Linked DNA regions of Homo sapiens. The protein of the gene in region 1 binds, or shares a complex with, the protein of each later gene. Each region holds a gene or a part of one and is shown in the gene's direction. Other genes may lie near its edges.

Region 1 (7,023 bases):
AGGAACAAATGTGGTTCTCCTTCCTAAGGAAAAGTGGATTATCAGATTTCCAAACTAGTTTTGCAGCCTTATAGAGAAATGTTGCGATAAAAATTCTAGTTTTAAAATTCTGTTCCATAATTGTCATAGAATCACAGACTTTTCCAGGCCGTGGTCCCCACCAGCACGTTCCATAGCAGACATCGCCGAGGGGCTGGAGCAGTGGATGATCTGCCTGGGTCACCTGGGTGGCGTCAGCGCGGCCCTGCGGCCCTCCCCTTACGGGTTTACATTGGGAATCAAGCTTCATGGAGGTGTTGCTCTTGAGCCCTGGATTTGAGACAGTACACGTGGGGAAAGCTAAGCATCTCTAATTGCAAGCACCGTCTTGCATTTAGAATGGTCGCTTGTAGCCTTAACTTAGAAAAGGAGTCTCGCCCTTGACCTGGTGTCCTTGTGTTGCAGGCGTGGTGTCCCTCGTGGCCGTTCACCCCTCCACCGTCAACCCGCTCGGGAAGCAGCTCTTGCCAAAAACCTTTGGACAGTCCAATGTCAACATTGCCCAGCAAGTGGTAAGCCTCCCGCAGGAGCGGACAGCCGGGATCTCGGTGTGAGGTCGGGATCGGATGAGCCGTGTGGTTGGGGATGTTCCCAGGTGTGCCTGGATTTGGGCTCCAGTTGCAGCATGGGGCCTTTCCCTCATCAGGGAGCCCGTGGCCAGTGCTAGATTTTCCATAGCCCTCTGCAGCTGCCCACGTGTTGTTGTGGGAGAGGTGATGGCGCCCACAGCACTCCTGTGTGCCCCAGCCCATGCCATCCTTCCAGTAACTGGAGGGTGGTGGGTGGGGCCGCGGCCCCAACCAGAGGCAGCTTCCTTTTAGTGTCAGAGCTCGAAGCTCTTCATCTAACAGGGGCTTCTTACGTGATGTGGCCGAGCGTTGGCTGTGGCCCTCCTGGAGACATCAGGCTGGGAAGCCAGAGAGGGATAGGGCCCTGGCCGTGGCTGTGCGTTTGCCCCGGGGCAGTGACAGGGCAGATGCTGCTCCCTTGGCCACGCACAGGAGAGGGGAAGGTGGGCATTGGGAAGTGGCGCATCCCCCCTCCCCAGGCTGATGCTGGCCAACTGATGCTGCTTCTCATAATGCTGTTTCCTGTCTCGTGTCCGCCCTCTGCGTCCTTGCCGGTGGCAGCCTACTGGAGACAGGGAGCCCACACAGAATCCTGACCTCACCAGAAATGGGGCCCCAGGCACTTGGTGGGCAGGTTTGGCTGTGACTGGAGCTGGTGGTGAGGGACATAGCCATCCCAAGGCTAGGCCGGGCTTCCAGTCCTTCCTCAGGGACTTGTTTATGGTGCCTGAGGGCTCCTTCCTGGTCCTGAGATGATGCTGTGGCCCCGCCTGGGCAGCTGCCCCAGCCCTGTTCCTGCCAACCCTGGGCTTTGGTGATGCAGCACCTCTTGCACCCCGGCCTCCTGGCCCACTCCACCCCCTCACCCTGCTCCGTCTGTGCTGTGGCCCAGTCCTCTTAAAAGGATTGAACACCTCCGGGTGGGATGAGAACCTGTCCGTTCACTGTCACCAGGTGTCTCTCAGGCATACCCAGGTGTCCTCACGTGTCTCTCGGGTGTCCTCAGGTGTCTCCCAGGCATCCTCACGTGTCCCCAGGTGTCCCCAAGTATCTCTCAGGCATCCCCAGGTGTCCTCACGTGTCTCTCAGGTGTCCTCAGGTATCTCTCACATGTCCCCACGTGTCTCTCAGGGTGTCTCTCAGGTGTCCTCAGGTGTCTCTCAGGGTGTCTCTCACGTGTCCTCAGGTGTCTCTCAGGGTATCTCTCACGTGTCCTCAGGTGTCTCTCAGGGTATCTCTCACATGTCCTCAGGTGTGTCTCAGGGTATCTCTCACATGTCTTCAGGTGTCTCTCAGGGTGTCTCTCACATGTCCTCAGGTGTCTCTCAGGGTATCTCTCACATGTCCTCAGGTGTCTCTCAGGGTATCTCTCACATGTCCTCACGTGTCTCTCAGGTGTCTCTCAGGATATCTCTCACATGTCCTCAGGTGTCTCTCAGGGTATCTCTCACATGTCCTCAGGTGTTTCTCAGGTGTCTCTCACGTGTCCTCAGGTGTTTCTCAGGTGTCTCTCACGTGTCCTCAGGTGTTTCTCAGGTGTCTCTCACGTGTCCTCCGGTGTCTCTCACTTGTCCTCAGGTGTTTCTCAGGTGTCTCTCACATGTCCCCAGGTGTCTCTCAGGGTATCTCTCACATGTCCTCAGGTGTCTCTCACGTGTCCTCAGGTGTCTCTCACGTGTCCTCAGGTGTTTCTCAGGTGTCTCTCACGTGTCCTCAGGTGTCTCTCACGTGTCCTCAGGTGTCTCTCACGTGTCCTCAGGTGTCTCTCACGTGTCCTCAGGTGTCTCTCAGGTGTCTCTCACGTGTCCTCAGGTGTCTCTCAGGTGTCTCTCACGTGTCCTCAGGTGTCTCTCACTTGTCCTCAGCTGTTTCTCAGGTGTCTCTCACATGTCCCCAGGTGTCTCTCAGGGTATCTCTCACATGTCCTCAGGTGTCTCTCACGTGTCCTCAGGTGTCTCTCACGTGTCCTCACGTGTTTCTCAGGCGTCTCTCACGTGTCCTCAGGCGTCTCTCACGTGTCCTCAGGCGTCTCTCACGTGTCCTCAGGCGTCTCACGTGTCCTCAGGTGTCTCTCACGTGTCCTCAGGTGTCTCTCACATGTCCTCAGGTGTCTCTCACGTGTCCTCAGGTGTTTCTCAGGTGTCTCTCACGTGTTCTCAGGTGTCTCTCACGTGTCCTCAGGTGTTTCTCAGGTGTCTCTCACGTGTCCTCAGGTGTCTCTCACGTGTCCTCAGGTGTTTCTCAGGTGTCTCTCACGTGTCTTCAGGCGTCTCTCACGTGTCCTCAGGCGTCTCTCACGTGTCCTCAGGCGTCTCTCACGTGTCCTCAGGCGTCTCTCACGTGTCCTCAGGTGTCTCTCAGGCGTCTCTCACATGTCTTCAGGCGTCTCTCACGTGTCCTCAGGCGTCTCTCACGTGTCCTCAGGCGTCTCTCACGTGTCCTCAGGCGTCTCTCACGTGTCCTCAGGTGTCTCACGCGTCCTCAGGTGTCTCACGCGTCCTCAGGTGTCTCTCACGCGTCCTCAGGTGTCTCTCACGCGTCCTCAGGTGTCTCTCACATGTCCTCAGGTGTCTCTCACGTGTCCTCAGGTGTTTCTCAGGCGTCTCTCACGTGTCCTCAGGCGTCTCTCACGTGTCCTCAGGTGTCTCTCACGTGTCCTCAGGTGTCTCTCACGTGTCCTCAGGTGTCTCTCACGCGTCCTCAGGTGTCTCTCACATGTCCTCAGGTGTCTCTCACGTGTCCTCAGGTGTTTCTCAGGTGTCTCTCACGTGTCCTCAGGTGTCTCTCACGTGTCCTCAGGTGTCTCTCAGGTGTCCCCAGGTGTCTCTCATGGATCCCCAGGCATCCTCAGGTGTCCCTGGCCCTGTGGAGAGCTCTCTGTACTGAGCTGTTTTTTGTTGTCTAGGGCATCTCCCTTTGGTCTAATCATGTTTTCTTCAGAGAACATGACCACATACCAGGGATATTTTGGTCATTTTTGCACTTTAGTCTTTATTTTATATGCATTCCTGCTATTTCCGTTTATTTAAATATGCTTGAAATTCTCTGGATTCTTTAACAGATGTTAGGATATGAGTTTTAAGAGAGAGTGGCTTGTGGGTCACAGCCTTGAGGATCTGAGCAGGATTGCCTTCCCCGCGCTCCCTTCCCCGCGTCCCACTTCCCTGCGCCCCGCTTCCCCGCAGCCCCCCTCCCCGTGTGTGCTCCCACACAGCTGTCCTGATTGAGCGGTTCCAGATCCCAGGCAGCTTTTGTGGCCCCGTTTCCTGCCTGTGGAAGGTGACAAAAAACTTGCTCTGCAGAAGTTTTGTGGCCATTGAAAGTAGCGGTTTGTGGAAGCCCTACCACGTCATACGGCTTTTCAACCACGTTGCACAGCAGATCACGGCTTTTCAGTAAATGCCATTTTGATAAAAGCTAAAAATTCAGTTTTTGTTTTGCTTGATAATTAGATTATAGGTTTGCTTATAAGTTGACTAGGAATTCTAAGTTTGATTTTATAGGTGCTGTGTGTCATAGCAGAGTTTGTCTGGGTGAATAATTGTAGCACCACTTTCGTCTTTACTGCCGGTGTGAATACACTGGGGGGAAACGAATGAGAAGATTATCTTATTGATGTGCTTTAAACTTCGTCACTGAAAGTCAAGTTCCTGATTTAAATTCAGCTGTTCGGGTGGAGTTTGTCATTGCTGTTTTGTGCTTTGCAAAATCCCAGTGATGGGAATTAAAGCTGACAAAGGGCAAATGTTTCTTAAACCTTTTTATATACCAGAGGTTTACAAAAAACTGGACTGGCTCATTCTGACACGAGGGGTGGGGCTCAGTCCGGGCATGTGAGTGAAAGCGGTGGGGAGGTCCTTAGGTCTCTGACCTGCACCAGTCAGCAGGCGCAGGGCTTGTCAAGGTCAGGGTCTTTTGAGGTGCGGATGCTTGTGAAGCCTGTGGTGCTGCAGAGCTCAGCACGCGCACAGGAACGTGTGCGGGACAGAGGACATATGTGCTCAGCCGGCAGGAGCAGCGGCCTGTGTGAGCCCCTGGGGAGAAGCAGCCCCCCACCCAGGCCTGTGTCCCAGAAGTCGGCATCTGTGGTCGCAGTGGCCTTTCCTTTGCAGCTGCGCCACTGGCCCTGTCTCTCTGGACACCGCGGTTAACCTTGGTCCATCTCTAGGATTCTGTGTCTGAGTGGGGTCACACTACACGGAGACATCGTAATCTCAGTTTTTAGAGTGTGTGAAATTAAGGTGCAAAAAGTGTGCACTTAGGGCAGAAGGGATGCCTTAAATCAGGAGTCCCCAACCCCTGGGCCTGTTAGGAAGCTGGCCGCACAGCCGCCTGAGCCCTGCCTCCTGTCAGATCCCAGCATTAGGTTCTCAGGAGCGCAAACCCCACTGTGAACGGCACATGCAGGATCTAGGTGGCACTCCGTATGAGAATCGAATGCCTGATGATCTGAGGTGGGACAGTTTCTTCCCGAAACTACCCCCGACTCCGGTCTGTGGAAAAACTGTCTTCCACAAAACTGGTCCCTGATACCAAAAAGGTGGGGGATCGCTGCTTTAAACACCAAGGCTCACTGTGCAGCCAGTGAGGAGGGGAGCTCCTGGGGGAGGAGGGTTGGTCTCGGGCAAGGTGGACCTCCGGCAGGTCCTCTACTGTGGGATGCTTCCACCTGGAGCTGTTTTCTAACGACTGCTGGCGTGGAAGCTGCAAAAGCTTTAGAGTCGAAAGACTGTGTCTGAAGCCGTGTAAAGACTGTCTGGAGCCGTGTAAAGACTGTGTCTGAAGCTGTGTAAAGACTATGTCTGGAGCCGTGTAAAGACTGTGTCTGAAGCCGTGTAAAGACTGTGTCTGAAGCCGTGTAAAGACTGTCTGGAGCCGTGTAAAGACTGTCTGGAGCCGTGTAGAGACTGTGTCTGAAGCCGTGTAAAGACTGTGTCTGGAGCCGTGTAAAGACTGTGTCTGGAGCCATGTAGACTGTGTCTGAAGCCATGTCATTTACTTTCTCTGAAGCGCAGCTTGGATTCCAGCCGTGAGCACAGTAGGAAGGGAGACCCCTTATGACCTGTGGGGCCTGGGTCACCTCCCCTGCTCCCCAGCGAGAGGCGGGTGAGGGAGTCGTGAGGGCGGAGCCCATCCTCCAGAGAAGCCGCTGTTAAATCTAAGGGGTGGGTGTCCCTGGCGCCTTTCAGCCCCTGCCTGCCTCCTGCTCCCAGAGGCTCCTGGATCTCCTGGAAAGCCCTGGTTGGAGTGGGACCCACAGCCTCCCAGCTTTGGGCAGTACCCCTCATTGTGCTGTGACCACTTCTCCCTTCCAGGGTCTCTGCCCACCACTCCAGCTAGCGTGGCCACTGCTTCCAATACCTCCTTTTTTTCCCTAGGGGCCCAGCTCTGAACTATCCTTCCCGGCACTGTCCCATCCACCCTTTGGCACCTCCTTGGTTCCTGTTTTCCCTGCGCTTCTGCCCACACACGCCCTCCAGGGCTTCAGTGTGTTGCCGTGCCTCCTCTGGCTGTTGAGTGTGGCTCCTGGTGTAGGGAAGTGAGGCCGGGGGCCTGCTCCATGTCTGTTGAATGGGAGACTGGAAGGCGTCCTGTGGCACAGGCGGCCGGCCCGAGTTCACCGGCTTCCTGTGCACCAGGAAGGAAACGCACACACCTGTGCCAGGTCCGGGAGCAAAGCCTCTGTCTCGTTCCTGGGAGGGCTGGCTCCAGGCCGCCCCTGTGATGCTGACTCAGCTCACAGGGCTGGTGAGCAGCAGGTGATGGGTGAGGAGCAGGGACAGTGCTGCGGAGACACAGTGAGGGGAGCTGCCACGCAGGGCACGCAGAGGAAGGTGCAGGCACCCTTGCCCAGCACTGCATGGGCCGGATGCCGCGGGGCCTTCCGCAGGGAGCAGTTAAAGCAGGAGAGTAAGGAGAGCTTCCTGTAAGACCTGGCCTCCGTAAACAACGCATTCCCAGTGCACTGGTGGCTCGTTCTCAGGGTGCCCCTGGGTGCTGAGTCCTGTCTTCCAGGAAAGGTTGTTGGTGAGCACCATTGAGCACCTGGTGTGTACCTGCCTCTGGCTTTCTCTTCTTCCCAACTTACAGTGGGTTTGACCTGTGATTTTGACTTTAAGATGGTCCAAAAGCAACATGCATTCAGTGGAAACTGCTTCCACTGCCCATACGACCGTCCTATTTTTCATTTTGAGTGTGGTATTCAGTGGGTCTCCTGGGATACCCACACTTGACTAGAGTGGGCTTTGTGTGAGATGCTTCTGCCCGACTGGGCTAACATGCGTGATCTGAGCACGTGTAAGGTAGGCTGGCTAAGCTGTGATGTGTGGTAGGAGAGGTGGATGACGTGCATTTCGACTTAGGGTATTTTCAGCTCATGCGGGTTTATCGGGATGTTCCTTGTAAGTTCCTCGTT
Region 2 (6,172 bases), on another chromosome or scaffold:
CTACACATCGAGAGCTACTGTTATACAGTAAATTCAGTTGTTTTGGTTTGGATTGGTTTGGTTTGTTTTTTTTTTTTTTTTTTTTTTTTATTGTTCTGCAACCTGCTATTTTAATTCAACTCTACCTCATGGACATCTTTTCACAGATTTAGACTCTTAGTTCACAGGGTAGGAAAGCACAAAGGCCATAGGACTCTTGCATAATGGGAAGCTTATTTTTCTTTTTTTTTTTTTTTCCATTTTTTTTCTTTTTTATTGATCATTCTTGGGTGTTTCTCGCAGAGGGGGATTTGGCAGGGTCACAGGACAATAGTGGAGGGAAGGTCAGCAGATAAGTGAACAAAGGTCTCTGGTTTTCCTAGGCAGAGGACCCTGCAGCCTTCCGCAGTGTTTGTGTCCCTGGGTACTTGAGATTAGGGAGTGGTGATGACTCTTAACGAGCATGCTGCCTTCAAGCATCTGTTTAACAAAGCACATCTTGCACCACCCTTAATCCATTCAACCCTGAGTGGACATAGCACATGTTTCAGAGAGCACAGGGTTGGGGGTAAGGTCACAGATCAACAGGATCCCAAGGCAGAAGAATTTTTCTTAGTACAGAACAAAATGAAAAGTCTCCCATGTCTACCTCTTTCTACACAGACATGGCAACCATCCGATTTCTCAATCTTTTCCCCACCTTTCCCCCCTTTCTATTCCACAAAACCGCCATTGTCATCATGGCCGGTTCTCAATGAGCTGTTGAGTACACCTCCCAGACGGGGTGGTGGCCGGGCAGAGGGGCTCCTCACTTCCCAGTAGGGGCGGCCGGGCAGGGGCGGCCGGGCAGAGGCGCCCCTCACCTCCCGGACGGGGCGGCTGGCCGGGCGGGGGGCTGACCCCCCCGCCTCCCTCCGGGACAGGGCGACTGGCCAGGCGGGGGGCTGACCTCCCCGCCTCCCTCCCGGATGGGGCGGCTGGCCGGGTGGGGGGCTGACCCCCCCCACCTCCCTCCCGGATGGGGCGGCTGGCCAGGCAGAGGGGCTCCTCTCTTCCCAGTAGGGGCGGCCGGGCAGAGGCGCCCCTCACCTCCCGGATGGGGCGGCTGGCCGGGCGGGGGGCTGACCCCCCCACCTCCCTCCTGGACGGGGCGGCTGGCCGGGCAGAGGGGCTCCTCACGTCCCAGTAGGGGCGGCCAGGCAGAGGCGCCCCTCACCTCCCGGACGGGGCGGCTGGCCGGGCGGGGGGCTGACCCCCCCGCCTCCCTCCTGGACGGGGCGGCTGGCCGGGCGGGGGGCTGACCTCCCCGCCTCCCTCCCGGACGGGGCGGCTGGCCGGGCAGAGGGGCTCCTCTCTTCCCAGTAGGGGCGGCCGGGCAGAGGCGCCCCTCACCTCCCGGATGTGGCGGCTGGCCGGGCCCGGGGCTGACCCCCCCACATCCTTCCTGGACGGGGCGGCTGGCCGGGCAGAGGGGCTCCTCACTTCCCAGTAGGGGCGGCCGGGCAGAGGCGCCCCTCACCTCCCGGACGGGGCGGCTGGCCGGGCGGGGGGGCTGACCCCCCCCACCTCCCTCCCGGACGGGCAGCTGGCTGGGCAGAGGGATGACCCCCCCACCTCCCTCCTGGATGGGGCGGCTGGCCGGGCGGGGGGCTAACCCCCCCACCTCCCTTCTGGACGGGGCGGCTGGCCGGGTGGGGGGCTGACCCCCACCTCCCTCCCAGACGGGGTGGCTGCCAGGCGAAGACGCTCCTCACTTCCCAGACGGAGTGGCTGCCGGGCGGAGGGGCTCCTCACTTCTCAGAGGGTGTGGCTGCTGGGCGGAGGGGCTCCTCACTTCTCAGACGGGGCGGTTGCCAGGCAGAGGGTCTCCTCACTTCTCAGACGGGGCGGCCGGGCAGAGACGCTCCTCACATCCCAGACGGGGCAGCAGGGCAGAGGCGCTCCCCACATTGCAGAAGATGGGCGGCCTGGCAGAGACGCTCCTCACTTCCTAGATGGGATGGCGGCCGGGCAGAGACACTCCTCACTTTCCAGACTGGGCAGCCAGGCAGAGAGGCTCCTCACATCCCAGACGATGGGCGGCCAGGCAGAGACGCTCCTCACTTCCCAGACGGGGTGGCGGCCGGGCAGAGTCTGCAATCTCGGCACTTTGCGGGGCCAAGGCAGGCAGCTGGGAAGTGGAGGTTGTAGCGAGCCGAGATCACGCCACTGCACTCCAGCCTGGGCACCATTGAGCACTGAGTAAACGCGACTCCGTCTGCCATCCCGGCACCTCGGGAGGCCGAGGCTGGCGGATCACTCGCGGTTAGGAGCTGGAGACCGGCCCGGCCAACACAGCGAAACCCCATCTCCACCAAAAAAATACGAAAACCAGTCAGGCGTGGCGGCGCGTGCCTGCAATCGCAGGCACTCGGCAGGCTGAGGCAGGAGAATCAGGCAGGGAGGTTGCAGTGAGCCGAGATGGCAGCAGTACAGTCCAGCTTTGGCTCGGCATCAGGGGGAGACCGTGGAAAGAGAGGGAGAGGGAGACCGTGGGGAGAGGGAGAGGGAGAGGAGGGAGAGGGAGAGGAGGGAGGGAGAGGAGGGAGAGGGAGAGGAGGGAGACGGGAAGCTTATTTTTCTATTCTTGGTTTGGTTTTTGAGACAAGGTCTCACTCTGTTTCCCAGGCATGATCACTGCTCACTGCAGCTTCAACCTCCCCAGGCTCAGGTGATGCTCCTTAACCTCCCGAGTAGCTGAGACTACAGGCACAAGCCACCACACCTGGCTAATTTTTGTATTTTTTGTAGAGACCAGGTTTGCCATGTTGCCCAGGCTGGTCTGAAACTCCTGGGCTCAAGTGATTGAACCATCTTGGCCTCCCAAAGTGCTGGTATTACAGGCCACCACACCTGGCCTTAAATCTAATTTTTAAACCACCTGAAAAGATTAGTTCAAGCCATCCCTTATTAGGTTGTTCTAAGTTTTAAAAAGAGTCCTTATCCCAGTGTTAAGATTTGGATAGAGGATAGAGCACAGGAAAAAACAATTAGCTTGGTTGTTTGCTGCCATTTCCCCTCTCCCTCTTTTACTCACACACGTTCTCTATTTCTGCACAGAGTTTGAAAGATATCAACAACATGATAAGGCAAGGTGAGCAGAGAACCAAGAAGCGAGTAATAGCCATCGATAGTGATGCAGAATCCCCTGCCAAACGCGTCTGTCAAGAAAATGATGACGTTTTACTGAAACGACTACAGGATGTTGTCAGTGAAAGAGCAAATCATTAATGTTGTTCTTGTTTCTATGATAAAAGCACTTTCAGATTGTTCTGCAGAAAGTTGGAGCTCTGTCCTTCAAACCTTTTAGCCCTATAGATGATAAATATCACTGGGTTATAAGAAAAAATTGCACAAAAATTATGTGCTTTTTAAAATATTTATCCAAAATGTAGTTGACAGAGATGTATTTTGAGTTGGATTGGAAAGGAATATTTTAAGTGCCTTTTAAAAATACTAATAGTCCGGCCAGGCGCTGTGGCTCACGCCTGTAATCCCAGGACTTTGGGAGGCCAAGGCGGGCAGATCACCGGAGGTCAGGAGTTCGAGACCAGCCTGACCAACATGGAGAAACCCCATCTCTACTAAAAATACAAAATTAGCCGGGTGTGGTGGCGCATGCCTGTAATCCCAGCTACTTGGGAGGCTGAGGCAGAATTGCTTGAACCCAGGAAGCGGAGGTTGTGGTGAGCCAAGGTTGCGCCACTGCACTCCAGCCTGGGCAACAAGAGTAAAACTCCATCTCAAAAAATATATATATATATATAAATAGGGAATTTTTTTTAATGTTTGCTCCTTGAGTTTTCAAGATGAAATAAGGAGAAACCCCATAACTTTTTAGCTCTCTTTTAAAAATAAATGTCTCCTTCTGTGTTCTGTAATATGAGGATAAATAATCTACTTTTGATAGCATGCTTTGAGATATTTGTATTCTTAATTTAATATTGAAGGAAGGGGTTGGTTCCCATAGTACCTGGCCAGAGGGTTATATACCATCCTGTCTCTGGCCCACTGTGGTAATTCCACATCCAGGTACCACCGCCATTCAGAGTTGTCTCACCCCTTCTCGTGCCTTTTCTCTCCTTGAGCTTTATAAACAGATTTGTACCTGAGCCCCAGTGCTACACTCATCCTTGCTTTCCAGCCCTAAGCCATCTCAGCCTGATGTCACAACCCAATAAATGGGGCACTTTCTTCTTTTGTAAACTATTATCATTTTGGTTTCTGTGACATTAACTTAATTATATATGATCGTATTAACTCATGTAGTTCTCAAAATAGGCAGCTGCTTCTGAAGCCAGTAAAATAAAATTCAGTTAGTTATTAAAAACTAAATTCCTATTAGTAAGGTAACACCATGATTATGTGTGATATACTGTTTTTGAGATCATAGTTATCAGTCATTCTCAATATCTAATTGAGTCCCTAAGAATATTTTAAACCTTTTAAAAATCACATAAATATCATCTCATGCCTCATAATTCTAATATATTTAATACATCAGTAAAATAGCTGCTTATTACTTCCCACACTTTGTTCTCAGTATTGTTAGTGCATCATGAGTTTCCTGCTAGTGTTTGACCACTGGGTACTCCTGAAGATGTTTTTTAGTACTAGGGATGCTTTTCAGTATTAGGGATGCTTTTTTCAGTACTAGGGATGTACTAGGGAGTACTGAGTACTCCTGAAGATGTTTTTCAGTACTAGGGATGCTTTTTTCAGTGTTAGGGATGCTTTTCAGTACTAGGGATGCTTTTTTCAGTGCTAGGGATGCTTTTCAGTACTAGGGATGCTTTCCAAAATATCACCTCTTTAACGTTTACTTTTTCTAGTGTGTGTCTGGAATCCAAAGGACATGAATAAGCCACTCATAATTAATTTTGAGAAGTTTTATCAAATGTTTATGTTTCTAACTGCAAACCTTAATTTTGGAAAGGCACAATGTTTAACTCACCTATGTTTAACCATGGCTAATTTAAAATAGTCTAAGATTTGGCCGTCACTAATTAGTATTCTCAAGAATTTCATTTTTCAATTTTAAGAAGAAAAGGGATTTTGGTCACATTTTGCTTGTAAATGAAAATTACATCCTCATTCTTTGTGTAGTATCTACACATTGTTATAAGCCAAAAAACAAAGTCTGTCTGGAATCTTTGTACATATTTGTATGTTGCTATAATTGTTATTTTTATCTTCATTATTGTGCAAAATATAAATGAGCATTTGTACATTGACTGTATAAGAAACCATGGGCCAGGTCCTGTGGCTCATGCCTATAATCCCAACACTTTGGGAGGCTGAGGCAGGAGGATTGCTTCAGTCCAGGAGTTCAAGACTAACCTGGGCAACATAGCCCTCATCTCTACAAAAAATAAAAAAATTAGTTGGGTGTGATGGCATGTGCCTGTAGTCCCAGCTACTCAGGAGACTGACATGAGAGGATCACTTGAGACTGGGAGATTCTGAGGCTGCAGTGAGCTGTGATTGCACCACTACACTCCATCCTAGGTGAGAGGGCAAGACCCTTTCTCAGAAAAGGAAAAAAAGAAATTCTGGACATGTTTTTATCAGTTTTCAGGACTTGGTATCAATGTACATAGAATGGCTAATAAAAATTGGAATTGAGATTATTGAAAAAAAACTCTTTTCTGTATGACTGGAAGCAGTTGCACAGCCATCTGAAATCTGTCTGTTTTAATATCTATGTCTCTAAAATTCCTTAGAATAACTTAAAAGTTAATGTTCCTGTGGTTTCCAGGGTCTAGGGGGAAAATGAAAAATAACTGCTTAATGGATACAGAGTTTTTTGGGGGGGGAGTGATGAAACTATTTTGGAACTTGATAGAGGTGGTGTAGTTGCATAACATTGTGAATTTACTAAATGCCACTGTATTGGACATTTAAAAATGGTTAATTTTGTGTTATGTAGATTTCACCTTAAATTTTTTTTTAAGTCTTGATTTCACCTTAAATTTTTTTTTAAGTCTTAGATACTATATTAGTCCATTTTCATACTGCTGATAAAGAAATATCCAACCGAGACTGGGAAGAAAAAGAGGTTTAATGGACTTACAGTTCCACGTGGCTGGGAGGCCTCACAACCATGGCAAAAGGCAAGGAGGAGCAAGTCATATCTTACATGGATGGTGGCAGG
Region 3 (7,139 bases), on another chromosome or scaffold:
GTCTCAAAAAAAAAAAAGAAAAGAGAAAGAAAAGCCAGACATGTTAATTTTTATATGGTATTTTCCAATTTCCTCAAATCTTAAAACAAATTCATAATTCAAGAAAAATCTTCTATGGGCAAATTGAGTTATATCTGGGGGCCAGTTTGCAAACTCTGCTTGTTTTGTTTTCTTAAACTTTGACACGCATCGTGTAAAGAAGCTGTTATCTGTTGTTCTGCAGATGAGGCAAGCAAAGCTCTTCAAGAGGGTGAATCACTTCCCCAAGATCACAGAGGCGGGAAGCCACAGGGTTGGGGGCCACCCGACTCCAAAGGCTTGTTTCTATGTTAGACTGCCTTTTGGATGGGCAAGAGGTCTGTTCAGATATAGCCAGAACTGGCACAGTGACAGAATATCTCCAGGGACAGTAAACTGTCAGTCAGGGTAGCATTGAGGGATTGTTGCAGATGCAAAACTCCCCACCTCCCTCTGCCACAACTCAACAATGGACATCTCTGTGCCCTTCATAAAATTAAGTCATCACAGAATCTTTTCTCCCAATTATGCATTCCTTATCATGACTGGATATTCATGTTTGGTGAATTTTTGTTTTTTTGTAAGCTAAGAATGTATGCTTAGGGGAGGTGCTGTTTGTGGAATAAATAGGTTTAAATTATTTGTGTCACTTGTCAAACTTCTTAACAAGCATACTGTGCAGTGACAGAGAAATAATTCCTAACTTTCCCACTGGACTGTGAGTTCCAGGGGTCTGTTTTACTTATAACTGTGTCCCCAGCACCTAGCACAATGTCTGACACATAATAGGTGCTCAGTAAATATCTGTGGATTGAATGAAGTGAATTGACTTGTCCAAGGTCATGTTGACCAAGATTTCTGATTACACCCACCTGATTTAGAAGCCCATGCTATCACCTCTACACCACTCTGCTTCTTGGAAAGAACCAAGGGAAAGAGGTCTCCAGGCACAGGATTGTGGGCCCAACAGATTGCATCCCCTCGAACTCCTCTAGTTTGGTTGGTGAAGGTGGTGATGGAAATAAGCACCTATGAACCAAGCCACTATCCACCATAATACCCTTTAGAAACTACACTTTATAATCTTGACAGCCCTGAGCCTGGCTTTTGGGGTATTTACAGAGGGTGGCAAGGGCAGGTCCTGGGTTTTGCAGTGGGACAAGTGAAGTTCTCATCTCAGTTCTGCTGTGTGACCTTGAGCTATGAATGCCCCTCTCTGAGCCTCTTCCTTCCTGCACCATGTGGATAAACAAGCTTACTTACGGGATTATGGGGTTGAAAGGAGATCATCAATGGAAGTGGCTGCCCAGTGACTGTGGATTTTTTGGAAACTGTTTTTTGAAAACTGTTGACATTGAGAACAGCCTTATCAGGAGCTGCCAGGCTTAGGGCCAAGGGGCCTCATCTATCAGGCTTTTCTGCTTTCAAGTAGGTATTAATAGGTACAGAAGGCCCTTATCTCTTCCTCAGTTTCATGCTAGGAATGCTGGTCTTCACTCCTTTCTGCTTCAGCAGGACCTGAAGGATTGTGGGACGGAGGGCGCCTACTTCTACCTGGATGTGTACTTGAATACTCTGGGGCGGGCAGGACTTTGGAAAACCCCCAACCTCAGCCTCACCAAGCCTGAAAAATAACCTTTTCATCTACTTGGTAAACTCAGGCCCTTTTGGCCTCAAATTTCCTCATCATAAAATGGAGCAATAATAATAGACATCTCTCTTTGCCAGCCACCACAGTTAAACCAGCACAGTGCTTGGTATATAATAGGTGCTTAATAAGTGTTTGTTGAATGACTTGGGTTTGAGAGGGCTTCACACAAATGAATGTTAGTGTTACTGGGACCCTGTGGGAAGGTGCAGGGAAAGGACACTCTTTCCATCTGGAATGGGAATGTGCTGGTTTCTCTTGCTCTCTGCCAGCACCTGCGTTGGTTGTTTAGAATGGGACCTACCCCTCAGCTTCTTTATGGAGAGGGGATGGGGAAGGGGGACAGGCAGACCTCAGGGCTGGGAATGCAGTGTAGGCCCAATTTGGTCACTGGTTGGCTTCACAGTTACTTTCTCCTGAAAGGGCCTCAGTTTTCCTATCCATACAGCAAGAGGCTTATGTGGTCTCTGTGGTCCCTTCTAGCTATGATACATTCTAGGATTTGCAATGAGTAATTTCAGAAACTACTCATTGGAGGGGAAAACAACTCCTGATTTCCTAAACCACCTCATAGTTTGTAAAACACTTTCCAATTCCTTATGCTTTTCATTCTCCTGGCAACCCTGGAAGGGGCCAGGGCAAGGTCTGTGTGCCCATTTGAAACTAAGGGTGAGAAGCATCCTCAGGAGCTGTGATTTGAGGCTGCACCACTCATTTTGATTATGCTGGTACACCAGTTTGCTTTCAAATGTGAGTATGCATAAAAATAACCTGGAAGCTTGGTGAGGTGGCAGTCACCTGGAGTACCAGCTATGCTGGAGGCTGAGGCGGGAGGATCTCTTGAGCCCAGGGGTTTGAGACTACCCTGGGCAACATAGTGAGACCTCGTCTATATAAAATAAATAGGAAAAAAAAAATAAGATACTGGCTTTTCTAATTCCCTAAGTGTCAAAAAAAAAAAAAGAAAAAGAATAACAAATATCACCTGGAAAGGGGACATGGCATTGTTAAAATGCAGATTCTTGGGCACCTAGAGATTTTAAATTGGCAGGGCCAGGGTGGGCCCAAAATTAGCAAGTGACCACGTGGTTCTGAAGCCAGTGGCCTAAGGACCACCCTTGCAGAACCGTGGTCTCCTTGTCACAGTCTAGGCAGCCTCTGGCTTAGCCTCTGTTTCTTTCATAACCTTTCTCAGCGCCTGCTCTGGGCCAGACCAGTGTTGGGAGGAGTCGCTACTGAGCTCCTAGATTGGCAGGGGAGGCAGATGGAGAAAAGGAGTGTGTGTGGTCAGCATTGGAGCAGAGGCAGCAGTGGGCAATAGAGGAAGTGAGTAAATCCTTGGGAGGGCTCCCTAGAAGTGATGTGTTTTCTTTTTTTGTTTTAGAGACAGGATCTCGCTCTGTCGCCCAGGCTGGTGTGCAGTGGCATGATCATAGCTCACTGCAGCCTCGACTTCTCGGGCTCAAGCAATCCTCCCACCTCAGCCTCCCAAGTAGCTGGGACTACGGGCACACGCCACCATGCCTGGCTAATTTTTGTATTTTTTGTAGAGATGGGTCTTCACCATGTTGATCAGGCTGGTCTCGAACTCCTGGGCTCATGCGATCCACCCCGCCAGCTGATTACAGGGATTCCGGTGGTGAGCCACCGCGCCCAGACGCCACTTCATCGTATTGTAAACGTCTGTTACCTTTCTGTTCCCCTGTCTACTGGACTGTGAGCTCCTTAGGGCCACGAATTGAGGATGGGGCACAGAGCAAGCTCTCCAAACGTTTGTTGAATGAGTGAGGGAATGAATGAGTTCAAGCAGATGCTATACGTTGGCTGTTGGAGATTTTGGCTAAAATGGGACTTGCAGGAAAGCCCGACGTCCCCCTCGCCATTTCCAGGCACCGCTCTTCAGCTTGGGCTCTGGGTGAGCGGGATAGGGCTGGGTGCAGGATTAGGATAATGTCATGGGTGAGGCAAGTTGAGGATGGAAGAGGTGGCTGATGGCTGGGCTGTGGAACTGATGATCCTGAAAAGAAGAGGGGACAGTCTCTGGAAATCTAAGCTGAGGCTGTTGGGGGCTACAGGTTGAGGGTCACGTGCAGAAGAGAGGCTCTGTTCTGAACCTGCACTATAGAAAGGTCAGTGGGATGCGGGAGCGTCGGGGCGGGGCGGGGCCTATGTTCCGGTGTCCCCACGCCTCCAGCAGGGGACGCCCGGGCTGGGGGCGGGGAGTCACACCGCGCCTGGTACCATCCGGACAAAGCCTGCGCGCGCCCCGCCCCGCCATTGGCCGTACCGCCCCGCGCCGCCGCCCCATCCCGCCCCTCGCCGCCGGGTCCGGCGCGTTAAAGCCAATAGGAACCGCCGCCGTTGTTCCCGTCACGGCCGGGGCAGCCAATTGTGGCGGCGCTCGGCGGCTCGTGGCTCTTTCGCGGCAAAAAGGATTTGGCGCGTAAAAGTGGCCGGGACTTTGCAGGCAGCGGCGGCCGGGGGCGGAGCGGGATCGAGCCCTCGCCGAGGCCTGCCGCCATGGGCCCGCGCCGCCGCCGCCGCCTGTCACCCGGGCCGCGCGGGCCGTGAGCGTCATGGCCTTGGCCGGGGCCCCTGCGGGCGGCCCATGCGCGCCGGCGCTGGAGGCCCTGCTCGGGGCCGGCGCGCTGCGGCTGCTCGACTCCTCGCAGATCGTCATCATCTCCGCCGCGCAGGACGCCAGCGCCCCGCCGGCTCCCACCGGCCCCGCGGCGCCCGCCGCCGGCCCCTGCGACCCTGACCTGCTGCTCTTCGCCACACCGCAGGCGCCCCGGCCCACACCCAGTGCGCCGCGGCCCGCGCTCGGCCGCCCGCCGGTACGGACCCCAGGGACGCCGCGCCGACAGCGCCGCCTGTGCCCCCCGCGCAGACCCGGGAGGGCGCCGTGTTTGGCCTGGAGGCGGCAGGGGGCGGGGGAGGGGTTGACTGAGGCGCCCAGGCTGGGCGGTGCAGAGCCGGGGTTGGGCCTCCGGGCCCCGCCCTGGGGTGCGGGGTGACCTCGGGCCGGTCCCTGTTTGCTGCTCTGTGCTCTGCGCCTCAGCTTCCTCACCGGAGCCTCCCCAGCGTCGGACTCAGTGATAATAATAGCCCACGTGTATTCAACTGGCGTTTACTGCATGCCAGGCCTTTGGGCGACTTCAAGCCAGCTAAAACTCACAACCCCGCTGTGAGCTGTGTTGTCACTGTGCCCATCTGACGGAGGAGGAACTGAGGCCCAGAGAGGGAAAGTGACTTGCCCCTGGTCACACGGCTGCAGGTGGTGGGGCTGGGATTTGAACTGAGGCCTGCTGGCTTCAGCTCAGAATTTGCATCTCGGTAGTGAGCACAGCTGCTAGGGGAAGTGAAGGCGGGGCGGAGGAAAGTCCTGGGGCCTAACCGTTGGTGAGCCATTGAGGAGACCCTCCTTCCTGCCTCGATGCTGACTGCCAGGTGCAGGCCTGGCCGGCCAGGCCTCTGGGGACAGCCCTCCTGGCTGGGAGGCCTTCTCTGCAGGGGCGGGGCAGCTGGACCAGCTGCTGATCCCCTCCCTCTGCCTGTCCTTCCATCTGCCACCCTCCACCCTCCCAGGCCCTGGTTGCCATGGAACCTCATTAATCAGGCAGGCCGACCCCTGAGTCTCTGTAGAAGGACTAGGTGGGCTGGGCCTCTGGGAGCTGGAGAGGAGGCCCCCAGTGCCAGGAGAGAAAATGTCTCAGGGAGATCCTTTAATAAAGCCCTCCCTGATCGCTGAGCTCAAGACGAATTCAGACTGGAGGGCCCAGAAGAGGCGGCTGAATTCCAGTGGGAGAAGGGATTGGAGGCGTAGAAGCCTGGAGCTGGGAACTGTGGGGCACAGGGCAGGGTGTGGAGACCAGTTTGACTGGCGCAGCCTATGGGTGAAGGTGGGGCTCTGGTGTGCAGGCGGGGTCTGGCCAGGCAGGATGGGGTCTCAGCAGGGAACTTGGAGCAAGTGGGAGGGGTGAGGCAGGACTCAGGACAAGGAGGTAGAAGCTGCCTAACTGCTGATGGGGGTGTGGGTGGCAGCTGGTCCCTGAGGCATCCTGAGGAGGCTCCCCCAACCCCCTTGGCCCCATGCCCAGTGCTGCCTTCCGGAATCACCACAATGCTAATAATAATAACAATAGCAGCCACCATTGTTTTGAGGATGTCTTGTGTGCCAGGCTCTGTGCCAAGCGCTTTACTTAATTAACTCATTTAACCCCATCAGCAGCAGTCCCTTTTTACAGATTGGGAAGCTGAGGCCTAGAGATGTTAGAATCTTCCCATGTCATTCTGCTCTTGAGTGGGGAGAGCAGTCTGCGTTTCCTCTGAGGTTGACCTCTGGGATGCCTTGCTTTCTGGGGATGCTGATACAGGTTGAAGAAAGGGCAAGAAGGGCTTTTAGGGGCCCTCCCTCTTAATGAGTGGGTGGGAGGGGGTTGTACCAGGGGTGGGCCAGGTGGCCTGTCTCCTGTACTCCAGGGGCCTGTTCCTGTGGGTACCACTTGGGACCTGGGCAAGCATCTTCCATTCAGCTGTGTGACAAGCATTATAGAAGGCTCAGGTCTGCGGAAATCTAACAACCTGAGGGTCTTGTCCTCAAAGATCTGAACAGGATTATGGGTTCTAGGATCAAAGGGAGGGACAGGGGCAAAGAAAAATGCCCTCCACTCCACCTGTCAGGGGCAGGCTCATTGGCCTGGGCATTCCATTCATTCAACAGTTGTTGAGTTAGTGAATGCCCAGGAGGCACTAGGCCCAGAGACAAGGAGCCCTGGCCCCCAGTGTACTTAAGGGCCAGGAGGCTGGCACCATTCTGGAACTGAAGTCCAGAAAGTCCACAGGTTTGGCTTTTGGCCTCTCTGCACTGGCATTTGTCTGGCACAGTCCTTGAAATAAGCTACAGGCTTAGCTTCTATACCAGCAGGCATTCTGTATACAAGGCTCTGCAATTCAGCCATTCCTCTTGGCCCTGCCTGTCCACTTCCACAAACTCAAGTATTATAACTATAATACATGTTTAATGTAGAAAACTTAACTTTTTTATTTATTTATTTATTTTTTTTTTGGAGACAGGGTCTCATTCTGTTACCCAGGCTGGAGTGCAGTGGCGTGATTGCGGCTCACTGCAACCTCTGCCTCCCAAGTTCAAGCTATTCTGTGCCTCAGCCTCCCGAGTAGCTGGGATTACAGGCGTGTACCACCATGCCCAGCCAATTTTTGTATTTTTAGTAGAGAGAGGGTCTTGCCATGTTGCCCAGGCTGGTCTTGAACTCCTGAGTTCAGACAATCTGACTGTCTCAGCCTCTCAAAGTGCTGGGATTACAGGTGTGAGTCACCATGCCCAGCTGAAAACTTAACTCTTAACTCTTTTTTTTTTTTTTTTTTTTGAGATGAAGTCTCGCTCTGTCACCTAGGTTGGAGTACAGTGGCGCCATCTCGGCTCACCGCAACCTCTACCTCCTGGGTTCAA
Region 4 (7,253 bases), about 65 Mb from region 1:
CTGAACTGTTTAACAAGCAATGTCCAATGATCATGCACTCGGATATTCCTGAAATGTCAAATTGATATAAACACTGCTAAGCACTTATCCTTTTAATTTCTGTACTTATTTCCTTGTGGACTAAACACAAACAGTTCGCAGACTGTCACTGGTCCAAGAACTACACTTTGAGTAGCATTACTCTAGGGAGCACTTGCATTGAAGGGACCGGCAGAAAGAGAACTAATGAAGGAATTTGTGAAGTAACAAGGGAGGAGAACAAGGAGACCATAGATTTGTGGAAGACTAGGGAATTTTTAAGAGGAAGTGGTTAACTATATTGACTGCAAGAAAGGTCAAGTAGGTTGAGGACCAAAAGAAGCCATGGGATTGACAACTATCATCAGTGACATTTGAAAGAGTGATTTCAGAAGGGGGCTCTTGGTGGTAGTGAAAGAAAGCCAGGGGCCAGCAGGCTGAGAAATTGGGGAAGCAGAGAGAACCAATGGGGACTACCCTTCTAAGAAGCTAGATGGTTAAGAAATGGAAATAGTGTGGTAGCTTGGGGGTATAAAAACTTTGAAGGAAGGCTTTTTAGAACGATGAAGACTTTTTAGACCCTTCCCCAAATTTTAATATCACTGAAGGAGTCTCAAACTGAAGAGAGTTCCCTCTCTAGATAGAAAATCTAAGAAATACATATATTTTTTGTAGGAGTCTTACAGCAATCTTCTTAAAATTACCAAGCAGGTTGGAAGAGATCCATGAATTTCAAGAAGTTCAGGGGGAATTTTTTTAAGACTCTGCTGAAATATATATATATATATATATATATATATATATATATATTTTTTGAGATGGGGTCTTGCTCTTGTCGCCTAGGCTGGAGTGCAGTGGCATGATCTCAGCTCACTGCAACCTCTGCCTCCTGGGTTCAAGTGATTCTCCTGCCTCAGCCTCCAGAGTAGCTGGGATTACAGGCACCTGCCACCACACTCAGCTAATTTCGTATTTTTGGTAGAGATGTGGTTTCACCATGTTTGCCAGCCTGGTCTCAAACTCCTGACCTCAGGTGATCCACCCGCCTTGGCCTCCCAAACTGCTGGGATTACAGGCGTGAGCCACCGTACCTGGTCTAGACTCTGCCGAAATTCTAATACTTCTTTGGTAATGCAACAGAAAACTAAAGATTTTGATGGTGAACTCAATTGCTTCTGAGTTGTGTGGATGAAAATATATTTTATTATTTTTTCCTTCAACTTTTAAGCTCCCAGGTATATGTGTAGGATGTGCAGGTTTGTTACACAGGTAAATGTGTGCTATGGTGGTGTGCTGCACAGATCAACCCATCACCATGGTATTAAGCCCAGCATCCATTAGCTCTCCTGATGCTCTCCCTCTCCCCACCCTTCCCCGCTACAGGCCCCAGTGTGTGTTGTTCCCCTTCCTGGGTCTATTTTATGGTATGTATGTGTGTATGTGTGTGTGTGTGTGTGTGTGTGTGTGTGTGTGTGTATCTATTTATGTGTATATATTATGATATATACACCACACTTTTTTCAAACTATTATTTTAGGTTTAGGGATACATGTGCAAGTTTGTTATATAGGTAAACTGTGTGTCTCTGGGGTTTGGTGTGTACAGATTTTTTCACCACCCAGGTAACAAGTGTAGTACCTGATAGGTAGTTTTTTGATCTTCTGTCCTCTCACCCTACACCCTCAAGTAATCCCCCAGTGTGTGTTGTTCCCCTCTTCATGTCCATGTGTTCTCATTGTTTAGCTCCCACTTATAAGTGAGAACATGCAGTGTTTGGTTTTCTGTTCCTGCGTTAGTTTGCTGAGGATAAAGGCTTCTGGCTCCATCCATGTTCCTGCAAAGGACATGATCTCATTCCTTTTTATGGCTGCAGGAAAATATATTTTACATACTAGTGAACATAGTTAAATTAATCCATGGTCAAGACATATATTCTTTTGTAAATTGAGAAATCTCTTTATCATAATTGTAATATGGTAATAAATAAATCTAGATTACATAAATGTAATCTAGATGTTGATAAACTGGTTTTAAATAAAGCAAGTGATATCTACGTATGAAGAGAGTTTACTTCAGTTCCTAGAACTTTCCTTCACTTTCCTGCCATCCCTACTTTTAGTAAGCAAGCATTTACTGTGTGTGTAACACTGTGCTAGGTACTAAGGCAATGATGATACCCAAGATTTGGTCTCTATCCTGAAGATAAGCACAGGAGAAACATTATCAGTCATGATGCTTTCTGTTGCAAACAAGTGAAAACCTCAGCTCAGCTTAGGTCAGCTCCAGGGCTGGCCAAATCAGAGGCTCATTTATAACACTGAGGATCCAGATTCTTTTGAAATTCCTCCTGCACCAATATCAGCATTTCTACCTTCTCTGTAGGTTGGCTTGCCTCACGTTACAATGGCTGCAGCAATCAGAAGTGTCACATCCTCAGTAATACTTAATATTATTACTATTATTTAATAATATTTAGAACTGTGCCATCCCTGTTTCAATTTATCAGGCTCCCAGCAGACTACTCCTTATCTTTCAAATGTCAAAACTGCATCCTGAGCTCTTGCCTAAACTAATCTGGGGTGAGGTGAATGGAAGTAGCACTTTAATTGTATTCATTCTTTGTAGCTGGACCTGGGCCTGGGCCCTATCTCCTGACATTTGCCCACAAGAAAGATTTCTGAAGTTAGGTAGGACTGGCTGTTGAGTAGGCCAGTGCTTGCCAAACCTTTACACATCCTCACATATGTCATAATATGCAGATAAAAAGATAATCCCTTATACAACTTGCTGGGATAAACTCAGGAGGCTTACAGCCATGACCTGCTTGAAGGTTCTTCCTGCCTTAGACCTTGCTCAGCTGCTCCAGGATGAGGGGATTTACATCACAGCACAACTGTATTTTATTCACAGCATAAACCATCTCTTTCCTTCTCAGTTGACGAGTTCAGATGGGCAATAACAGTGTCTGCCAAAGAGAAAAAAAAATGTATTCAAACTAGATAATCTATTGGTACAAATACCGAGACACAGAAGTGATAACAGCTTTAAGCCAATGTTTGATGGTGGTAGTCCCAGCAAGCTCTTTTCTGATGTCTTTGTGCCTTTGCACATGCTCCTTCTCTGTCACTGTTTTCTTCATCAAACATAATATAATGGACAAGTGGAATCAAATAGAATTGAGTTCAAATTCTCTGCTACCCATCGGCCCTGGTATTGGACAAATTAACTCCTCTGAGCCTGTTTCCTCATCTGCAACGTAGACTAGCTAATACTACCCATTGGAAAGCGTTGTTTCTTAGCTAATGCATGCAAGGCTTAAAACCTAGATGACGGGTTGATAGGTGCAGCAAACCTCCATGGCATACGTATGCCTATGTAACAAACCTACACGTTCTGCACTTGTATCCCGGAACTTAAAGTAAAAAAAAAAAAAAAAAAAGAAAAGAAAGAAAGAAAAAGAAAAAAAAGGCTGTTTCTGGGGATTAAATAAGACAATTATGTAAGGTGGCCAGCACAGTTCCTGGTACATAGTAAATGTCAGGCCTGCCTGACAGACTTCTATTCAGCAGCTACTGCTCCCCTGAAAATCTTCCTCAGACGTTTCCACGGTGCTTCCCGTTCTTACACCACTACAATCCTTTATTACACTACTATCCGTTCATTCCCCACAGCTCCCTCCCTTCCTTTCCCTAACCAGTGATCCCAAAAGGCCAGCAAGTGTCTAACATTTTCTATCTTCTAAGTGACTGGTAAAGTTCCGCACCTATCAGCGCTCCAAGTTTGTTTTTGTTTTGGCCGACTTTGCAAAACGGATTGGGCGGGATGAGAGGTGGGGGGCGCCGCCCAAGGAGGGAGAGTGGCGCTCCCGCCGAGGGTGCACTAGCCAGATATTCCCTGCGGGGCCCGAGAGTCTTCCCTATCAGACCCCGGGATAGGGATGAGGCCCACAGTCACCCACCAGACTCTTTGTATAGCCCCGTTAAGTGCACCCCGGCCTGGAGGGGGTGGTTCTGGGTAGAAGCACGTCCGGGCCGCGCCGGATGCCTCCTGGAAGGCGCCTGGACCCACGCCAGGTTTCCCAGTTTAATTCCTCATGACTTAGCGTCCCAGCCCGCGCACCGACCAGCGCCCCAGTTCCCCACAGACGCCGGCGGGCCCGGGAGCCTCGCGGACGTGACGCCGCGGGCGGAAGTGACGTTTTCCCGCGGTTGGACGCGGCGCTCAGTTGCCGGGCGGGGGAGGGCGCGTCCGGTTTTTCTCAGGGGACGTTGAAATTATTTTTGTAACGGGAGTCGGGAGAGGACGGGGCGTGCCCCGACGTGCGCGCGCGTCGTCCTCCCCGGCGCTCCTCCACAGCTCGCTGGCTCCCGCCGCGGAAAGGCGTCATGCCGCCCAAAACCCCCCGAAAAACGGCCGCCACCGCCGCCGCTGCCGCCGCGGAACCCCCGGCACCGCCGCCGCCGCCCCCTCCTGAGGAGGACCCAGAGCAGGACAGCGGCCCGGAGGACCTGCCTCTCGTCAGGTGAGCGAGCAGAGCCGCCGTCGCCTCACGCGGGAAGGGCGCCCCGGGTGTGCGTAGGGCGGGCGCCAAGGCGGCTCGGCGGGGATCCGTCCTCGCCAGGGGCCGGGTCCCGGCGGGAGGAGGCGCCCTCCCTGCCCCCCGCCACGGCGGAGCGTCTGCAGAATGGTGACAGGATTCTGGGTTCTTGGGCGAGGGGTCTCGGCTTCAACTTGACAGGTGTCGGGCGGGTGGGGCTAGGGTCCTGAGCGAAGTGACAGGTGCAGTTCCCTCTTGTGAGGCTCGGAGGCAGAGGGTCGTTGCGAGCGTCCATCAGACGCAAAAAATGAAAAATAAAAATACAAAAATGGTGTCTGTGGGAGAGTTTTTCACCGGAGAATTGGAGTACTCCGGTGGTCGTCTGACTTTCTGTTTTGGTTCACGCGATGCAACAGTTGGGAAGTATTTTCTTCCGGGCGTGCACTGCATCTGAAGTCCATTTGTGGGAGAGGCCGACCAGAAAGCCTTGGACAAGAAGCGCAGGGTCCTGAGTGTCCATTGCCCACAGGATACTCGGCTCAGGAGCTTTGCGGCGTTTCCTTAGAACAATAATGCATCGAGGCCTTGGGGACTCAAAGCCATCTGTAGTGATTGATGGAGCGTAACTCTTTAGAGGAACTGAAACATGGGCAAAACTTTCATGAGACATTTACCAGAAGTGCTTGAAAGTTTCTAAACTTTTTTTTTTCCTGTTTGATGAACTCTTCTTGCGTGTTAGTCGGCTTCGGCTTGTCTCATTATTTCTTCCATTTTGCCTTTTGACTTTGAACCAGCAAGGATCTTGGTGTCCCCTCTTTTTGCCTTTGTTTTTGGCACAAAATTAGTGGTTCTGTGCGCAAATGGAAATTTTCGTTTTCCCTTATTAAGTGGAATCTAAATTTAAGCAAGTCCATACGAATGCACTAGATCTTGAAGGGAAGTATTTATTGTATTACAACATCTTACTTTTCTTGATTTTTCTACTTTATGGTTAAATAGCTATGATTGAAAGAGTGTAATTGTCATTATTGTCAGCACTGGTTCTACTTTGAGACAAGTTCATTGCAGAGGGAATGGGACTTGTTTCTGTTTTTCACTATTTTCTCTCCCATTCTTGTCTATCACCAAATCCTTTCACCCTCACCCATTTCTTTCCACTCGGTATACACTAACAATTCACGGCAGAAAAGATTGAAGTGGGATTTAGGAAATGGCCCCTGGAAGGCTATTAAAAATTTATATATTTAAATGGACTGTCTTATAGGTCAGTTAAAAACCATATTCGTTAAAAAACCAAAATAACAACAACAAAAAATTAAAAACCACGTCTGGGGCATGTTCTGGGAAAAGACATGGCTTTAGTTTCTGATTAAATTCTGATGTATCCAATTCTTGCAAATTTCCCTTGGGAAAATGCAGTAATGGCTACTCTAAAGAATTCCATGTTATGCACACAGCTTTGGAAGCATACTCTAATGTAGGGTAACCAGGAATATTGACGTTGTGGCCACTGCTTGGAAAAAAGAGGACTGTTTCTTTCATTTTTTAACTCATTTTATATATTTTAAGTAATGGAACTATAAAAAATTCTCTTATAAGTCAAAACCATACAAGATACAGTCTGTTCTTGATTATCCATACCCACAAAGGGTTTCATTAACATAGACAGTTGAACTCTATAAATTAACCAGCAAGGGTAGAACCGCTGCCGTGCAGTCTGATACTGAGCATCTTGCCTGGAGATGGAATCAAGGCTCAGTCCAACTGCACCTCCAGTGACAGATTCCATTCCTGATTTGAGAGTTTAGATCTTATTTCTGTTGCCTTATCTCTGGCCTAAGTAATGTAGCTGGAAGGGAAACTGTCACTAGGAACAGCATACCACATTCATTGTTGAAATAATCAAAGGTTAATCATGTTTCGAGCTGGGTGTGATGGCGCGTACCTGTAGTCCATGCTACTCAGGAGGCTGAGGCAGGAGGATCACATGAGCTTGGGAGTTGGAGGCCAGCCTGGGCAACAAAGCAAGACCCCAGTCTTTAAAAAAACAAAAAAGCTGACCAGGCATGTTGGCTCACGCCTGTAATGCCAGCACTTTGGGAGGCCAAGATGGGAAGATTGCTTGAGGCCAGGAGTTTGAGAGGAGCCTGGGCAACAAAACAAGACCCTGTCTCTAAAACAAATTTTAAAAAATTAGCCAGTGGCTGTGGCACACCTGTAGGCTCATCTACTCAGGAGGCTGAGGTGGGAGGATCCCTTGAGCCCAGGAGTTTGAGACTGCAGTGAGCCATGATTTCACCACTGCACCCCAGCCTGGATGACAGAGTGAAACCCTATTTCAAAACAAGAAAAAAAAACAAAAACTAATTATGTTTTGAAGGAGGAATTGGCAGTCTAGAATAGTGGTCAAGGGCATGGATTATAGAGTTAGACTGTTGGGCTCACATAGTGGTTTACCTCTTACCGGCTGAGACCTCAGGTAAGTTCTTTAACTTCTCCAATTTGACAGACATCTGTAAATGTCTACTTTTACAGATGAGAATACTTATCTAAAAGGGCTGATGTCGGGATTCAGTGAAACCATATGTTTAAGGTACTTTCTACAGGATCATAGTAAATACTCAAAAATTATTAATTATTCTTCATACTATTCTTATTAGTAGATAACACATAGAAATTAGATGAATGAAAATGAATT

What was found.
Region 2: the proteins of TFDP1 (region 1) and RBL1 are in contact, whole or in part, in a crystal structure (PDB 5TUV), measured with the Homo sapiens proteins. Residues at the interface, in NP_009042.1 of Homo sapiens: Pro260, Phe261, Ile262, Thr290, Phe291, Glu292, Ile293, His294, Asp295, Ile297, Glu298; in NP_002886.2 of Homo sapiens: Tyr1004, Phe1006, Asn1007, Ser1011, Leu1014 (codon at 3,082), Ile1017 (codon at 3,091), Asn1018 (codon at 3,094), Ile1021 (codon at 3,103).
Region 3: the proteins of TFDP1 (region 1) and E2F1 are in contact, whole or in part, in a crystal structure (PDB 2AZE), measured with the Homo sapiens proteins. Residues at the interface, in NP_009042.1 of Homo sapiens: Glu201, Cys202, Leu205, Glu206, Glu208, Arg209, Arg212, Leu213, Arg215, Ile216, Lys219, Gln220, Gln222, Leu223, Leu226, Ile227, Gln229, Gln230, Phe233, Lys234, Leu236, Val237, Arg239, Asn240, Arg241, Glu244, Pro251, Ser255, Val256, Ile257; in NP_005216.1 of Homo sapiens: Arg202, Leu203, Leu206, Thr207, Asp209, Leu210, Leu213, Gln214, Ser216, Glu217, Leu220, Asp221, Leu223, Met224, Ile226, Cys227, Thr228, Gln230, Leu231, Leu234, Asp239, Ser240, Gln241, Arg242, Leu243, Ala244, Tyr245, Val246, Thr247, Cys248.
Region 4: the proteins of TFDP1 (region 1) and RB1 are in contact, whole or in part, in a crystal structure (PDB 2AZE), measured with the Homo sapiens proteins. Residues at the interface, in NP_009042.1 of Homo sapiens: Gln222, Glu225, Leu226, Gln229, Ile262, Val271, Asp273, Asp288, Asn289, Thr290, Phe291, Glu292, Ile293, His294, Asp295, Glu298, Arg302; in NP_000312.2 of Homo sapiens: Ile835, Ser838, Phe839, Thr841, Ser842, Phe845, Gln846, Ile848, Asn849, Val852, Cys853, Asn854, Ser855, Val858, Leu859, Lys860, Arg861.

The regions. Positions count from the first base shown.
Region 1 is NC_000013.11:113,622,736-113,629,758, forward strand, and holds part of TFDP1 (transcription factor Dp-1), read left to right. Parts: intron 1-444; coding exon 445-551; intron 552-557; exon of another isoform or gene 558-2,026; coding exon of another isoform or gene 2,027-2,272; intron 2,273-2,768; coding exon of another isoform or gene 2,769-3,494; exon of another isoform or gene 3,495-7,023. Other genes in the region: uncharacterized protein LOC124903219, read left to right, coding at 2,027-2,272, 2,769-3,494. UniProt on the Homo sapiens protein: Can stimulate E2F-dependent transcription.
Region 2 is NC_000020.11:36,995,836-37,002,007, reverse strand, and holds the end of RBL1 (retinoblastoma-like protein 1), read left to right. Parts: intron 1-3,078; coding exon 3,079-3,249; 3' UTR 3,250-5,659; downstream 5,660-6,172. UniProt on the Homo sapiens protein: Key regulator of entry into cell division. Directly involved in heterochromatin formation by maintaining overall chromatin structure and, in particular, that of constitutive heterochromatin by stabilizing histone methylation.
Region 3 is NC_000020.11:33,683,368-33,690,506, reverse strand, and holds the start of E2F1 (transcription factor E2F1), read left to right. Parts: upstream 1-4,121; 5' UTR 4,122-4,242; coding exon 4,243-4,503; intron 4,504-7,139. UniProt on the Homo sapiens protein: Transcription activator that binds DNA cooperatively with DP proteins through the E2 recognition site, 5'-TTTC[CG]CGC-3' found in the promoter region of a number of genes whose products are involved in cell cycle regulation or in DNA replication.
Region 4 is NC_000013.11:48,299,510-48,306,762, forward strand, and holds the start of RB1 (retinoblastoma-associated protein), read left to right. Parts: upstream 1-4,241; 5' UTR 4,242-4,403; coding exon 4,404-4,540; intron 4,541-7,253. UniProt on the Homo sapiens protein: Tumor suppressor that is a key regulator of the G1/S transition of the cell cycle. The hypophosphorylated form binds transcription regulators of the E2F family, preventing transcription of E2F-responsive genes.